2 linked regions of the Homo sapiens genome follow. The protein of the gene in region 2 purifies or fractionates together with the protein of the main gene of each other region. This does not show direct contact. Each region holds a gene or a part of one and is shown on either strand. Other genes may lie near its edges.

Region 1 (7,654 bases), on a different chromosome or scaffold from region 2:
AAATTATATTGGAGTACAGTGGAAAATGTACTTAATTAGATTTGAAAATTAAACTTTACATATTTACAAGATAAAATTACTAGGCCGGGTGCGGTGGCTCATGCCTGTAATCATTTTGGGAGGCCGAGGTGGGCAGATCATCTGAGATCAGAAGTTCAAGACCAGCCTGGCCAACATGGTGAAACCCTATCTCTACTAAAAATACAAAAAAATTAGCTGGGAGTGGTGGCATGTGCCTTAGTCCTAGCTACTCGGGAGACTGAAGCAGGATAATCGCTTGAATCCGGGAGGCAGAGGTTGCAGTGAGCCGAGATTTTGCCACTGCACTCCAGCCTGGGTGACAGAGCGAGACTCCGTCTCAATTAAAAAAAAAAAAAGAGGCCAGTGCGGTGACTCACGCCTGTAATCCCAGCACTTTGGGATGCCAAGGCAGGTAGATCACCTGAGGTCAGGAATTCAAGACCAACCTGGCCAACATGGCGAAACCCCGTCTCCACTAAAAATACAAAAATTAGCCAGACGTGGTGGCAGGCACCTGTAATCCCTGCTACTCAGGAGGTTGAGACAGGAGAATCGCTTCAACCTGGGTGGTGGAGGTTGCAGTGAGCCAAGATTGCACCGAGCCAGGACTGCGCCATTGCACTCCAGCCTGGGCGACAAGAGCAAAACTCCGTCTCAAAAAAAAAAAAAAAAAATGACTGACCTGCTGGATTTCAGACTTGCATGGGCCATGTAACCCCTTTGTTTTGGATGATTTCTCCCATTTGGAACTGCTGTATTTACCCAATACCTGTACCCCACTTTGCAAATCCAGGGTAAATACATTTCTTTAGTATGCAAGTATAGCATATGCTTTGCTTTCATCGTCACTTTTCTTTTCAGAAAGGTAATGGAAACTGAAGGCAGCATAGCAAAAAGACTGAAAGCACTTAATGTATGCCTTAAAAGACCAGCTGATATGGTTTGGCTCTGTGTCCCCACCCAAATCTCATCTTGAATTGTACTCCCATAATTCCCACGTGTTGTGGGAGGGACCTGGTGGGAGATAATTTGAATCATGGGGATGGGGGTGGTTTCCCCCATCCTGTTCTCATGGTAGTGAATAAGTCTCATGAGATCTGATGGTTTTATCAGAGGTTTCCGCTTTTGCATCTTCCTCATTTTCTCTTGCCACCGCTACGTAAGAAGTACCTTTCACCTCCCGCCATGATTCTGAGGACTCCTCAGCCAAGTGGAACTGTAAGTCCAATTAAACCTCTTTTCTTTCCCAGTCTTGTGTATGTCTTTATCAGCAGCATGAAAACAGACTAATATACCAGCATTTAAAAGTATTGTTATTAGAAGACCAGCACTTTGTTAGGTACTCATGGATAGTTTATATGTGAAATTGCCTTACATCTTTGTAAAATTCTCTAACTTGTAAAGAAAAATAAGGAATGTAGACGGGGTGAGGAATGTGGATAGAGCGGTAAGATTGTATATGATACAAATCATCTCACTATTCTACCTTAAAATAGGCATATTCTGCCCATGTCCTTCTAGGCATCTGATGTTAAATATTTTTCCTGCAGATCTTTTCAGGTTAGCTGCCTTTTTTTTTTTTTTTTTTCTTTGAGATAGGTCTTGCCCTGTCACCCAGGCTGGAGTCCAGTGGCATGATCTTGGCTCACTGCAACTTCCACCTTTCAGGCTCAAGCGAACCTCCTACCTCAGCCTTCTGAATAGCTGGGACTACAGGCACTTGCCACCATGCCCAGCTAATTTTTGTATTTTTTTGTAGAGACAGGATTTTGCCATGTTGCCCGGGCTGATGTCGAAGCGATCCACCCAGCTTGGCCTCCCAAAGTGCTGAGATTACAGAGGTGAGCCACCATTCCCAGACGGTTAGCTGCTTTTTAATAGGTTTATGTTACATTAAAATATTTTAATTAGGCAACATACTGATTAGTTTTACTTTGCACAGTTAGTTTCAGAAACAAATACGAACTTAATCTTCAGTGATACCTGTTCAGCCCTTTTTGCTAATTCACGCTGTATTTTCCTCTTTTCTAACATATCCTGCTCAATTCTGCGTTTTCGTTCCTCCTCCGTTCTCTTCCTTTGTTCCTCTTGTCTTTGTTTCTCCATTTCAGCAAATCTACCCTTCACAGTTCCTAAAAATATATGAAAAAAAAGTTTGATACTTGGTTATGTTTCTATTTTGCAATTTAATTTACTATTTACCCCTCAAGCTTCTTACCTGTTAATTTTGGAACATAAGCCTTTTCTACTTTAGAAGATACATCTTCCTCATCATCAGAAGCAAGCATTTCTTTAATCTAGATGGTTAAATAAATTAATGTGAGCACATGTCCAAAAATTAGACTAAATCACATTATATGCAGAGTTTAAATTAGGTTACAAATACAGAAAAGTATTTTAGTTATAGTTAATGTGAAATGTGGTTAATGTGAATAAATACAATTTAAATGAAAAAATGCAAACAAATATTTTCACGAGAATAAAGTAAAATAAAATAACCTCCTGCTTTCTCCTGTTCCATTCTCTCTCTCTAATATATTGTTCTTTTCTTCTTTGTTTTTCGTCTCTAGATCTCCTTTGATTTCTTTCTTCCCTGGCTCTCTGCATGGCTTCAAACTTATCCTTTACATCACCCTTGCCAAGTTTTGGTACATAGGTTTTTGGGACAGGTTTAGATGAAGAAAGCAGAATCTTCATTAGAAGAAAATAAAAAAAAGAAAGTTAACGAAAAAGATAGGAAGAAATTAGGTAAAGATAGATAAGAATAAGCAATATAAAAAATATTTATTGAAACAGAAAATAGAAATGTGTTTGAACCCTTTATTTGACCATCACAACCTGATTAGATACTTTCTAAAACCTAACTATGAAAAATGACATTACAGAAAATATGAGAGTAGAAATTTCACTGTTATATAGTAATGAAATCTCATTTTGTGGGTAGCATTCCACTGAAGCTGAAAGCCAGTAAAATATAAAAATCAAATTCTGAATTCTAATTAAAAACAACTGTCTTTTATTGTCTAACTCCATTATTAAAGATTCAGATTTGATATCACTTGCTAAAAAAGTACCCAAACTAATTTCAGTAAATTTGGTGAAGTTGAAAACAAAGCAAAAGTTTAGGCTTTAAAGTTTGAGCCTAATTCACATTTTACCCCCTTCCTGGTTTCTATATCCAATATAAGCAAAACCAAAGGCCAGTCCTTTAGTCCTTATTTGTGGCTGAGGTACACCGTGGTCTGTGTGCACAAGCTGTGATTTATGTTGTTACTATTACTTCCCATCTATAACTTCTTTAAGCCACATTAAAAATGTGTAAGAAGGCTATATCATTCTATATGGGGGCGGGCTGTAAGAGGAATTCCATATGGCAACAGCTTCACAAAGAATGGGAATCTGGTAGAAGACTGAAGAAATGATTTTCCTCCACTCTAAAACCAGAAGAGCAAATTATTTTCACCACTTTGAAAATTAAGCTGATTTCTAAATGAAATTTCAGTAAATAAAATGTGTGCCTCAGAACACCAAATCCTTTTTCCTAGTGATAATGACAATTACTTAATTAATTTGTGGCACATCCAACTTGTATTTTATAATCTATTATGTGTCATTGGCCATTTAAGGGTTAACTTTATAATTCTGAGGTGTCAGCAACTGAGCTCTTCTTACAACTCTCAGTATCTACAGTCAAGAACCAGAAGAAAGCTAAAAATTAAAATATATATATAAGGCACTAAAAAGGTTCCTTACCTAAGAGGGAATTATGTTTTCTCCTATGAGTATAGGTCAAACTTTGTTTTAATACTAAAATAATAATTTCTAAGAGTTATCAAGAACAAAATATTTAAAATTCTACTCAGAATGCTAGCTATCACATCCACTTCACTATCATTCACAAATTTACTACTCATGCTTTGTAGAATTTCCTAGAACCCAAATGAAAATACTAGCCCAAGACCAGCTGGTGAATTGTATCTCTTCTTGTTTTACATCTTGCCATTATGTTATTAATTATGAACTCCTAAATATGACCTTTCCACCAAATGACTGTCCTTTCAGCAATTCTACAGTCAACTCTACATTTCCCTCTTTTATTTTTATTTTTACTTTTGAGACTTACCTCAGCCTTTTGGGAAATATCATTCATGTTTGCTCTATGTGGTCTTGGGCTGATTATGAAGCTCTGTATATATTTGCACCTGAAAAAAATTTATATTGTATAATAAATTTTAATTTATTTGTAATATATTATGTATTTTTATAAATAGAAATAGCAGTTAATTGCCCCTCAAAAAATACTGACATGATTCAAGCAAGTAATAAATTGTGATAACCTTTAGCTCTTTTTCCCAAGATTCATGGTATAGAAAACATAAGGTGCATGATGGTAAAAGATCCCTGAAAGTTTTTGATCCAGAATAGCTTGATGAACATACTAAGTTCACTTGAAAAGAATGTGTATTCAGCAATTACTGAGTGTATTACTCTATAAATATTAACTAGCTGAAGGTAGTTGATCATGTTTTAGATCTGTATTTTTACTAATTTTTGGCTATTTCTATCAATCTTCAACTATGTAGTTTTTTGTTTGCTTGTTTTGTTTTGTTTTGTTTTTGTTTTTGTTTTGAGATGAAATCTCACTCTGTCGCCCAGGCTGGAGTGCAGTGGCGCCATCTCGCTCACTGCAAGCTCTGCCTCCCGGGTTCACACCATTCTCCCACTTCAGCCTCCCGAGTAGCTGGGACTACAGGCGTGTGCCGCCACGTCCGGCTAATTTTTTGTATTTTTAGTAGAGACGGGGTTTCACCGTGTTAGCCAGGATGGTCTCAATCTCCTGACCTCGTGATCCGCCTGCCTCGGCCTCCCAAAGTGCTGGGATTACAGGCATGAGCCACCATGCCCGGCCACCAGCTTTCTTTTTATTTATACATTTATTTTTTAGAGACAGCATCTCGCTGTGTCACCCAGGCTGAAGTACAGTGGCACAATGACAGTTCACTGTACCCTTGAACTCCTGGGCTCAAGCGATCCTCCTTCCTCAGCCTCCCAAGTAGCTGGGACTACAGGCATGCAGCACTATGCCCAGCTCTTTTTTTTTTCTCTATAGAAATGGGGTCTCACTGTGTTGTTTAGACTGGTTTTGAAACCCTGGGCTCAAGCAACTCTCCCACCTTGGCCTCCAGAAGTGCTAGGATTGCATCCGTGAGCCACTGCATCTGGCCCCCAACTTTCTTAGGTTTACAGTTTGCATGGTATATAATTTTCTAGCTATTTACTTTCACTCTATCTATGTTTTTATATGTAAAGCATATGTCTTGGACACAGCATATGTTTGGACCTTGCTTTTTACAAAAATCAATTCTGATAAAATCTGGGTTTTCTTTTTTTTTTTTTTTGAGACGTAGTTTCGCTCTTGTTGCCCAGGCTGGAGTGCAGTGGCATGATCTCGGCTCACTGCAACCTCCGCCTTCCAGTTTCAAGCGATTCTCCTGCCTCAGCCTCCTGAGTAGCTGGGATTACAGGCTCCCACCACCACACCCAGCTAATTTTTGTATTTTTAGTAGAGATGGGGTTTCACCATGTTGGCTAGGCTGGTCTCGAACTCCTGACCTTGTGATCCACCCACCTAGGCCTCCCAAAGTGCTGGGATTACAGGCGTGAGCCACCGTGCCAGGCCTAAAATCTGTTTTTTTAATTGCAGCATTTAGTTCATTAACATTTAATGTAATTATTAATATCAATGAGTTTAGGCCTATCATTTAAATATTTATTTTAGGTTTGTTTTATCTTGTTTTGTTTTTTTCTTTTGGAATTTTCTAGCCAACTTTTTTTTTAATAGAGTTTATTTTAGGTTCACAGCAAAATTGAGTAGAAGATAGAGATTTCCTGTATATGTTCTGTCCCTGCACATGCTTAGTCACCCCCATTATCAACACTGGATAACCCCATTATTACCACCTATTGGAGTGGTACATTTGTTATAAATGATGAACCTATACTGACACATCATTATCACCCAGAGTCCATAGTTTACATTAGGGTTTACTCCTGAGTTGTACATTCTGTGGGTTTTGGGTAAATGTACAATGACATGTGTCCATCATTACAGTATTGCACAGAGCAGTTTCACTGACCTAAAAGTCCTCTTTACTCCACTTACTTATGCTTTTCTCCCCCATAATTCCTGGTAACCATGATCTTTTTACTGTCTTCATAGTTTTGACTTTTCCAGAATGTCATACAGTTGGAACCACACAGTATGTAGCCTTTTCATATTGACTTTTTTCACATAGTTATGTGCATTTCAGTTTCCTCTATGTTTTTCATGGCTTGATAGCTCATTTCTTTTTAGCACTGAATAATATTCTATTACCTGCATGTACCACAGTTTATCCATTCACCTACCAAATGACATCTTGGTTGTTTCCAAGTTTTGGTGTTTATGAATAAAGTTGACATAAATATCTGTATGCAGGTTCTTGTGGACCATGATTACTGGATTATATGGTAAGAGCATATTTAGTATTATAAGAAACCACCATGTAGCTTACCACTTTGCATTCCCACCAGCAATGAATGAGAGTTCATATTGCTCCATATCCTCACCTGCATTTGATGTTGTCAGTGTTCTGAATTTTGGCCATTCTAATAGATGTGGAGTGGTATTTCATTGTCATTTTTATTTGCATTTCCTTGAATATATATTAAATGAATAAATATTAAATTAGAATTATATTAAATAATATATTAAAGCACCTTTTCATATGTTTATTTGCCATCTGTATCTTCTTCAGTGAGATGTCTCCTAAGATCTTTGTTTGGTCCATTTTTTTTTTTTTGAGATGGAGTCTTGCACTGTCACCCAGGCTAGAGAGCAGTGGCATGATCTCGGCTCACTGCAACCTCCGCCTCCCGGGTTCAAGCAATTCTCCTGTCTCAGCCTCCCGAGCAGCTGGGACTACAGGCACCTGCCACCACACCCGGCTAATTTTTGTATTTGTAGTAGAGATGGGGTTTCGCTATATTGGTCAGGCTGGTCTCAAACTCCTGACCTCAGGTGATCCGCCCACCTCGGCCTCCCAAAGTGCTGGGATTGCAGGCGTGAGCCACTGTCCCCAGCCCTTTGGTCCATTTTTTAATTGGGTTGTTTGTATTCTTATTACAGAGTTGTAAGAGTTCTTTGTGTATTTTGGATAACAGTCCTTTATCTGATATGTCACTTGCAAATATTTTCTCCAAGTCTATGGCTTATTTTTTAATTCTTTTCACAGTGTCTTTTGCAGAACAGAATTTTTTAATTTTAATGAAGTCCAGCTTATCAATTCTTTCTTTCATGAATTGTGACTTTGGTATCATAGCTAAAAAGTGAACTCCAAATCTGAGGTCATCTAGATTTCTGTCTATGTTTTCTTCTAGGAGTTTTATAGTTCTATGCTGTAAGTCTGTGATTCATTTTGAGTTAATTTTTGTGAAGAATGTAAGGTCTATTTCTAGATTCAGTTTTTTGCAAGTGGATGTCCAGTTGTTCCAGCACCATTTGTTGAAAATAATCTTTTCTCTATTTTATTGCCTTTGCTCCTTTGTCAAAGATCAGTTGATTATATTTACGTGGATCTATTTCTGGGCTCTC
Region 2 (8,308 bases):
TCTTGTCTCACTGCAAGCTCCGCCTCCCGGGTTCACGCCATTCTCCTGCCTCAGCCTCCCAGGTAGCTGGGATTACAGGCGCCCGCCACCACGCCCGGCTAATTTTTTGTATTTTTAGTAGAGATGGGGTTTCACCATGTAAGCCAGGATGGTCTTGATCTCCTGACCTCGTGATCCGCCCGCCTCGGCCTCCCAAAGTGCTGGGATTACAGGCGTGAGCCACTGCACCCGGCCAAACATTGATCTTAAAACAGCAACAACAACAAAAAAAAAAAAAAAAAAAAAGAAAAGAAAAAAAAGAAAAAAGCGCCAGGCACGGTGGCTTACACCTTACGTAATCCCAGCACTTTGGAAAGCCGAGGTGGGTGGTTCACGAGGTCAGGAGTTTGAGACCAGCCTGGCCAACATGGTGAAACCCTGAGTCTACTGAAAATACAAAAATTAGCCGGGCGTGGTGTCAGGCGCCTGTAATCCCAGCTACTCAGGAGGTCTGAGGCAGGAGAATCACTTGAACCGGGGAGGCGGAGGTTGAAGTGAGCCGAGATGGTGCCACTGTACTGTAGCCTGGGCGACAGAGCAAGACTCGGTCTACAAAAAAAAAAAAAAAAAAAAAGCATCTGCCTAAAGTGAAAAACAAGTCCATTTTCAGCAGAGACATTTGGAAATCCATTCAGCATGCTAGGCATAATTGTAAGGTGAATTATTCAATGTTGAGTGTTATAAACAATAAAAACCACCACTAGATTTCGAATTGGTAAAATACCTCATTTTGAATGCACACATTAATTCTCTTGCCAAGTTGCCTGCAATTTTCCAGAAAAATTTGTCTTCCTTCAGGGAGGATTGAAATCCAAGATCAGCCCAACACTACCATCTAGTGGTGAGATGTATTGATAATGCTTCTATTCAACTAAAACTTAAAAAAGTGGTACCATTTTTTTCTTCCCAAACTGCAAAAGTAGATCCTGAGAGACAGTAATAACGTAAGAAAATAATGGAAGAGAAACATTGAAAAGTTCAAATTTTAATTAAAATCTTTATTGAATAAAAATGTTTCAGACTAGGTAAGACTAAGAAAGCAGAATGTTTTACATCTCTAAAAAATATTAAAGCTAAATCTCTATAAATGCAGTACAAAGAAAAGCCTACAGCTTAAGACACCTCTCCCTCCCATCCATACAATTTGGAATATCAACTGTGTACAACAAATGTACTCAAGTTTATAATGTCCCCAAACCTTAAGACTAGAAAATCATCCCAAGAAAAAGGCCTATAGTTGGTTTAATTTCACCCTGAGAATACTGTGATAAAAATCAATATATTTCAGAGCTAGTAAGTATTTAAAAATTAGTGTCTCAAAAAGGGGACATCATAAGGGAAATACAGGGTTTAGAGGTCTGAGCTCAAGTGGTGTAAGACAGTTCTTTCTTCTTCCTCCTTTAAACTCTTCACTTTGCTCTAACACGGAAGATGGGGGACAGTGATCCCGAAGGTATTACTAAAATATTGCAGCTTTCAGTAATTATGAGAAGCACAGATATCACCAGAAAAGAAAGCAATCATTTGGAGTACAGTAAATTCACTGGCAGATACAAAAGCTTATTTGGGAGACAGCAGATCTCTCTAAGCACCGAAGAGTGTAGGTTGGTTTTTCAATTGCCTCAAAAAGTGCTCTGTTGTATTATACCTCAGGACGTCGAGTTCAGGATGTAGTTTAGAGAGCAGGACATAAAGTAGTAAATTCCTCATATATATCACAGCAAGAAAATTAACCTAAAAAATTTAAAGACTAAATAATCTCTTAACAGGTAAATACTAAAAAATTAAATTGGTATTCATTTAAAAATATACAAACTGTGCCCTTTATACTAAAGTGCATTCAGTCGTAATGTTTAAGCCCCTAAATTCCTTCTGTATGTTCTCTAATTCCAAAATAGTGTGTAACAATATACTACTAATCATCTGTCTACCTTAATATTGCCTTTTGGGAATACAGTAGAATCTGGGCTATTATCAGGTGGAATATTTCCCCAGTTACAAGCCTTACAGCACTTATGCATATCATCACTGCTAAAATGAAGAATTTAAGTAAAGTTATCTCTAGTATTTAGAATGTGTTTTTTGTGTTTTTTTGTTTTGTTTTTGATTTTAAGAAGGAATTCTTTTCCAAAGTTACTTCCAAGTAAATTACATTTCATGCTGGGATACCTGCTTATGTGCATCACATTTTGACAAAGGGCAGTGGCTCGCTAACACTAACATGAATTTAAGGCCCAGCATCATTGCAATTTGTCACTCTTCATCCTCATCCTCATCATAATACCGATTTCTCTTTATCTGTTCTTCCACAGAGAGCTCTTTGACCACTTCTCCCTCCCAGAGTTCCACATCCTGGGATTTCTGATTCTGAGTAGTGAATTCTTCAGCAAAGGTGTTGTCTACAAAACTCGACCAATTCAGAGACTTGGGTTCTTGTGGAGATTGTTGTTTGAGGAAGCTGTTATCATCTTCATCGGAGTCTGCACCATTTTCTACAAGATTCTCATTCTCCATCTCCAAACTATGACCTTCCTTACTTCTCTTCCCTGTCTCTCCTTTAGATTCTTTGTTTTGCCAGGTTGTTTTTCCCACATTCCCATTCTTCTTAGAAGCCTTGGCATTTTCCACTTGTTTCCTTTCTGCAACTCTTCCACCCACAGACTCTTCACTCTGCTCTGACATGCTCCAGCCTTTCCTGATAGGTGGGGACACAGTTTTTGGGCTCTTGACAGAGGTGCTTTGAAATGAAGCTGCTACAGTGAATGGGCGGCTTCTTTCCTTCAGTGAAGAAGATCGTCTTAGCTTCTTCAGATCTAGATCGACATCCTCAGGAACTTCGGGCTTGCTGATTTCGTCTTCAGGAGGCCATTTGGGCTTTGACATTTTGATCCCTTCCTCCAAGGCACTTCCTGAACTTCCAAGTTCAGTGGGGGGTGGCCAGGCGATCCTCAGCTTCTTGGTTTCAGCTGGCTTGTCTTCCTTCTCCTGCTGAGAGGAGGCCTTGGCTTCCATACTTGCAGCCAGGACACCCACCTTAGCAATAGGGGCATCTTCTACCCCTGGGCTGTGAGGGGTCTCCCTTGCATTTGCAAGCTGGGCTGGTCTCTCCAAAATCTCTTCGTTTTCATTTTTGCTTGCCCATAGATCCTTGTGTGGTCTGTGCCCAAAGCCTTCATCATAGTTGCCCTTAGATTTAAAGAGTTGATTGAAGTGAGGCTTACAATAGATTCTTCCATGTAAAGATGCATATGTTCCTAGACTGTCATTAAAAGAAAAAAAGCATAAACTTAGCAAATCTTCACATTCTCACTTATACCAGGAGGCTAAAATCTGGCAATTCCAGTATTTTCAGAAGATGCCAAGTAAGAAAAAGATCTTTAAAAGCCCTTCAGTGACCAGGAATTCCTTACCCCCATTTTAGCACATTTGTTTTCTTATCATAACACAAAGCACGGGTTGGGTGCAGTGGCTCATGCCTGTAATCCCAGCGCTTTGGGAGGCCAGGGTGAGAGGATCGCTTGAGCCCAGGAGTTTGAGACCAGCCCGGCCAACATAGTGAGAATTCATCTCTACAAAAAATTTAAAAATTAGCTGGGTGTGGTGGCACATGCCTGTAGTCTCAGCTACTTGGGAAGCTGAAGTGGGAGAATCACTTGAACCCGGGAGGCAGAGGTTGCAGTGAGCTGAGATTGTGCCACTGTGATAGAGCGAGACTGTCTTAAAAAAAAAAAAAAAGAAAAAAAAACCAACAGTAATAGAAACTTTAAATCATTCTGAGCCTTGAGAGGAATGTGGCTATGCAACCTGGGTCACACAGCATGTAGCTGCAACTCTTTCTTTTCACTATAAATTATGAAGACCAAAGGGCACCAGAGATAAGACCCCCTCAGATCACTATCCCTTCTTTGCGAGTGATAATCTTCCTTGGAATGTACCAATCTGTACCCAATCAAATCACTGTGGTATATGCACTGGTCTTATATGAAAAATGTCATAATCTTTGCTAAAATTTCTGTGTAAGTGAAACTAACTTTCTCCACTTTGGAATGCTGACCCCATTCATTTGGAGTCAGTGTTTCTGGGTAGCCATCATCAAGCTTTTGTGCTTGAATTAACTCTATTCTTAACGGTATATAAATACATATATATATATATATTTTTTTTTTCTTTTTCTTTTCTTTTTTTGAGAGAATCTCGCTCTGTCGCCCAGGCTGGAGTGCAGTTGCACAATCTTGGCTCACTGCAACCTCCGCCTCCCAAGTTTAAGCAATTCTCCTGCCTCAGCCTCCTGAGTAGCTGGGATTACAGGAGTGCGCCACCACGCCTGGCTAATTTTTGTATTGTTTTGTTTTGTTAGAGTCTCGCTCTGTCGCCAGGCTGGAGTGCAGTGGCATGATCTCAGCTCACTGCAACCTCTGCCTCCTGGGTTCAAGCGATTCTCCTACCTCAGCCTCCTGAGTAGTTGGGACTACAGGTGTGTGCCACCATGCACGGCAAATTTTTGTATTTTTAGTAGAGACGGGGTTTCACCATGTTGGCCAGGATAGTCTCGATCTCTTGACCTCGTGATCTGCCCGCCTCGGCCTCCCAAAGGGCTGGGATTACAGGCGTGAGCCACCACGCCCAGCCATTTTTGTTTTTTTTTGAGACAGAGTCTCGCTCTGTCACCCAGGCTGGAGTGCAGTGACACGATCTCAGCTCACTGCAAGCTCCGCCTCCCAGGTTCACGCCATTCTCCTGCCTCAGCCTCCCGAGTAGCTGGGACTACAGGCACTCGCCACCACACCTGACTAATATTTTGTATTTTTAGTAGAGACGGGGTTTCACCTTGTTAGCCAGGATGGTCTCAATCTCCTGACCTCGTGATCTGCCCACCTCGGCCTCCCAAAGTGCTGGGATTACAGGCATGAGCAACTGCACCCAGCCATTTTTTGTTGTTTTTTTTTTTGAGTGGAGGTCTTGCTCTGTCACCCAGGCTGGAGTGCAATGGTATGATCATAGCTCACTGCAGCCTTGACCTCCAGGGCTCAAGTGATCCTCCAGCCTCAGTCTCAGCCTCCCCAAATTTTTCATAGAGATGGGATCTCCGGCCAGGTGCAGTCCCAGCACTTTGGGAGGCCGAGGTGGGCAGATCACTTGAGGTCAGAAGTTTGAGACCAGCCTGACCAACATGGTGAAACCCCATCTCTACTAAGAAATACAAAAATTGGCCAGGCGTGGTTGCTCACACCTGTAATCCCAGCACTTTGGGAGGCCGAGGAGGGCAGACTGACTGAGGTCAGGAGTTCAAGACCAGCGTGGCTAACATGGTGAAACCTCATCTCTATGAAAAATACAAAAATTAGCCAGGCATGTTGCACACGCCTGTAGTCCCAACCACTCGGGAGGCTGAGGCAGGAGAATTGCTTGAACCTGGGAGGTGGAGGTTGCAGTGAGCTGACATCATCCCACTGCACTCCAGCCTGGGCGACAGAGCAAGACTCCATCTCCGGAAAAAAAAAAAAAAAGAAAGAAATTAGCTGGGCGTGGTGGTGCCCGCCTGTAATCCCAGCTACTCAGGAGACTGAGGCATGAGAATCGCTTGAACCTGGGAGACAAAGGTTGCAGTGAGCCAGGATCACACCACTGCACTCCAGCCTGGGCAACAGAGTGAGACTCCATCTCAAAAAGAAAAACCAGATGGGGTCTCTCTATGTTACCCAGGCTAGTCTTGAACTTCTGGCATCAAGTGATCCTCCTACCTGGGCACTCCCAAAATGCTAGGATTACAGGTGTGATCCTTATATCCACACCTAGATATAAGCTTGATTAATAGAAGAATGGTGAGGAGTTGACAGGAGGTAGTTTTTCCCTAATGTCAGTCCTAGACAAGCCTTTAGGAGATTTGGTGTCTCTTGCAGGATGATAAGTTTTATCTTTTTAAAGTTTTTTCCCTTAAGTTACGAACCATTCTGAAGAGTGACAAATGTTAAAGGGGGTATAAAACGGCAGCACTTCCACAAAAGAAATAAGGTGCTTTAAGCCAGGCACAGTGGCTCACACCTATAATCTCAGCACTTTGGGAGGCCGAGGCGGGTGGATCACGAGGTCAGGAGATCAAGACCATCCTGGCTAACATGGTGAAACCCCTTCTCTACTAAAAATACAAAAAATTAGCTGGGTGTGGTGGCGGGCGCCTGTAGTCCCAGCTACTTGGGAGGCTGAGGCAGGAGAATCGCTTGAACTCAGGAGGTAGAGGTTGCAGTGAGCTGAGATCACGCCACTGCACTCCACCCTGGGCAACAGAGTGAGACTCTGTATCCAAAAAAAAAAAAAAAAAAAAAGGTGCTTTGGAGAAAAAAATTAACACAGTGGGCAGCAGAAGAACTAATGAGTGGAAGTGACTGAGGTACACTTTGGCTGCATGTTTGGAGAAGCTGTCTAGCTAGAGCTATCTAATAGCTAGAAATGTCACACAGATGCCAAAACATCTTTCAAGAGTATTTTAGGAAGGATTGCTCAGAAAGGAAAGCTGGAGAAAGTGACATCTTGGTTACTTCCTTCTGTAAGACTCTATGATTAAAATGAGTTAATTTGGAATGTTTCCCCGATTTGTCACATTTATATTTGCACTTTGAGTTACTTGGAAGAAATGATATGTAACAACTATTTTCTCAGAAATAAAGTGAGGCAACATAGAGAAAAAGACATGCTCTCCAGGGGCTATTATTATTGCCATTATTATCATTTATACAGTGGTTAAGACAAGTAAGGGCTTAAACAAGTAACCTCTTGAGATTTCTTAACTTTGTGATTCTGTGATACCAAGGGAAAACATTCTATTAAATTAGGTCACAGGGGGGTTTACCTGCAACTCATATTATTTAAGCTTCGGTCCTAACATGTAAATTAACATATCAATACACCAAGAAGTTCCAAACACCATCATTATTTGGTATGAAAGACTTGTCACTAAATGATGCTTTTTACTTTATTCAAGAGCCTTCAACAGAATATCATTAGCACAGTAGCTTTTAGCACCAGTGCTCTAAAAGCCAAAGACTCCCTCTAGAGTTCCAGTTATAGACAGATGGCTTGTTTTGGGCTGACTTACCTGAGTTTGTTGTTGCAATAGGAGCAACGGAAGCAGCTGATGTGAAACACCTGCTGGTTGGCCAAGAGACGCTCCATTGGATAGACTGTCTTCTGACATTCCACGCAGGTCTCTCTTGCAGGTGCCTGAAACTTCTAGGAAAAACAAAAAGACAACTTTAGCATGGGCAGCGATGAGTTAGCACTGTCTTGAGATGGACCCTAGAATTTACTTTGTCTAAGGGCTCCCTTAGCTGGTCAGTCAATTCTCATGGAGCACTAAACCTGCTACAATTCTATCAGCTGACTCTTTAAAGCCAAGAGGCTCTCTTGATATTCCCTTCCCAAACTGTGTGGCTGCTCTAAATGTAGCAGCCACCAAGGATAGGTGGAGCTACGTCTGGATTACAAAGAATGGCTTAGACAAGTCACGACCCACATAAAAAATGTTAGGAGCAGGGGATGGGGGAAGGGGTCGGGGGGGGGAGTGCAGGGATTAGGAGAAAATGTTATCACACACAGAAGAAAGAAGTTTGATTCAAGTGCCAAGTAAACACAAGACAGATTCTAAAGGGGATAAATTTCAAGGAGAGGAAGAGCATTTGGCTTTGGGAATTAGGAAAGACATTTCAGTAAAGCCCCTTTTATTCTGCTCTGCTTATAATCTTGATTTGTTCAATCAACTAGACATACTATTTTTAAACAAGTCAAAACTGACACACAAGTGGAACAATTTATAAGAGACACAAAGTATTTTATTAGGACACCAGAGGGAAGCATAGCCCATTAAAGCTATAGGTTCTATAATATTTCTAAAAACCAATGGAGAGAAAAACTAATGCAATGGGAAACACACTGGTTAATGTATTAATGACTGGGAATTCATGAACTGTTTGTAAAGTTGGAACAAACATGGGCACAGTGGTTCTACCTGATAAACTCAATCCTAAAGAATATAAAACAGTTGGTATTCTAGCACTGATAAAAGCCAGAACTCCAAAAATATTATAAGCTTTCACATGATAAGAAATAGTTACATGGGCCAGGTGCGGTGGCTCATGCTTGTAATCCCAGCACTTTAGGAGGCCGAGGTGGGCGGATCATGAGGTCAGGAGTTCGAGACCAGCCTGGCCAACATGGTGAAACCCCGTCTCCAGTAAAAATACAAAAATTAGGCAGGCGTAGTGGTACACTCGTG

The links. The genes of interacting proteins can lie anywhere in the genome.
Region 1: the proteins of LIMA1 (region 2) and NEXN purify together in Homo sapiens (affinity purification with mass spectrometry; 2 studies listed by BioGRID and IntAct, with this or other methods). This does not show direct contact.

What each region holds. Positions count from the first base shown.
Region 1 is NC_000001.11:77,912,624-77,920,277, reverse strand, and holds part of NEXN (nexilin), read right to left. Parts: intron 4,224-7,654; 5' UTR 4,172-4,223; coding exon 4,145-4,171; intron 2,713-4,144; coding exon 2,521-2,712; intron 2,319-2,520; coding exon 2,240-2,318; intron 2,154-2,239; coding exon 2,005-2,153; intron 1-2,004. UniProt on the Homo sapiens protein: Involved in regulating cell migration through association with the actin cytoskeleton. Has an essential role in the maintenance of Z line and sarcomere integrity.
Region 2 is NC_000012.12:50,174,772-50,183,079, forward strand, and holds the end of LIMA1 (LIM domain and actin-binding protein 1), read right to left. Parts: intron 7,267-8,308; coding exon 7,133-7,266; intron 3,299-7,132; coding exon 2,293-3,298; 3' UTR 1,017-2,292; downstream 1-1,016. UniProt on the Homo sapiens protein: Actin-binding protein involved in actin cytoskeleton regulation and dynamics. Increases the number and size of actin stress fibers and inhibits membrane ruffling. Inhibits actin filament depolymerization.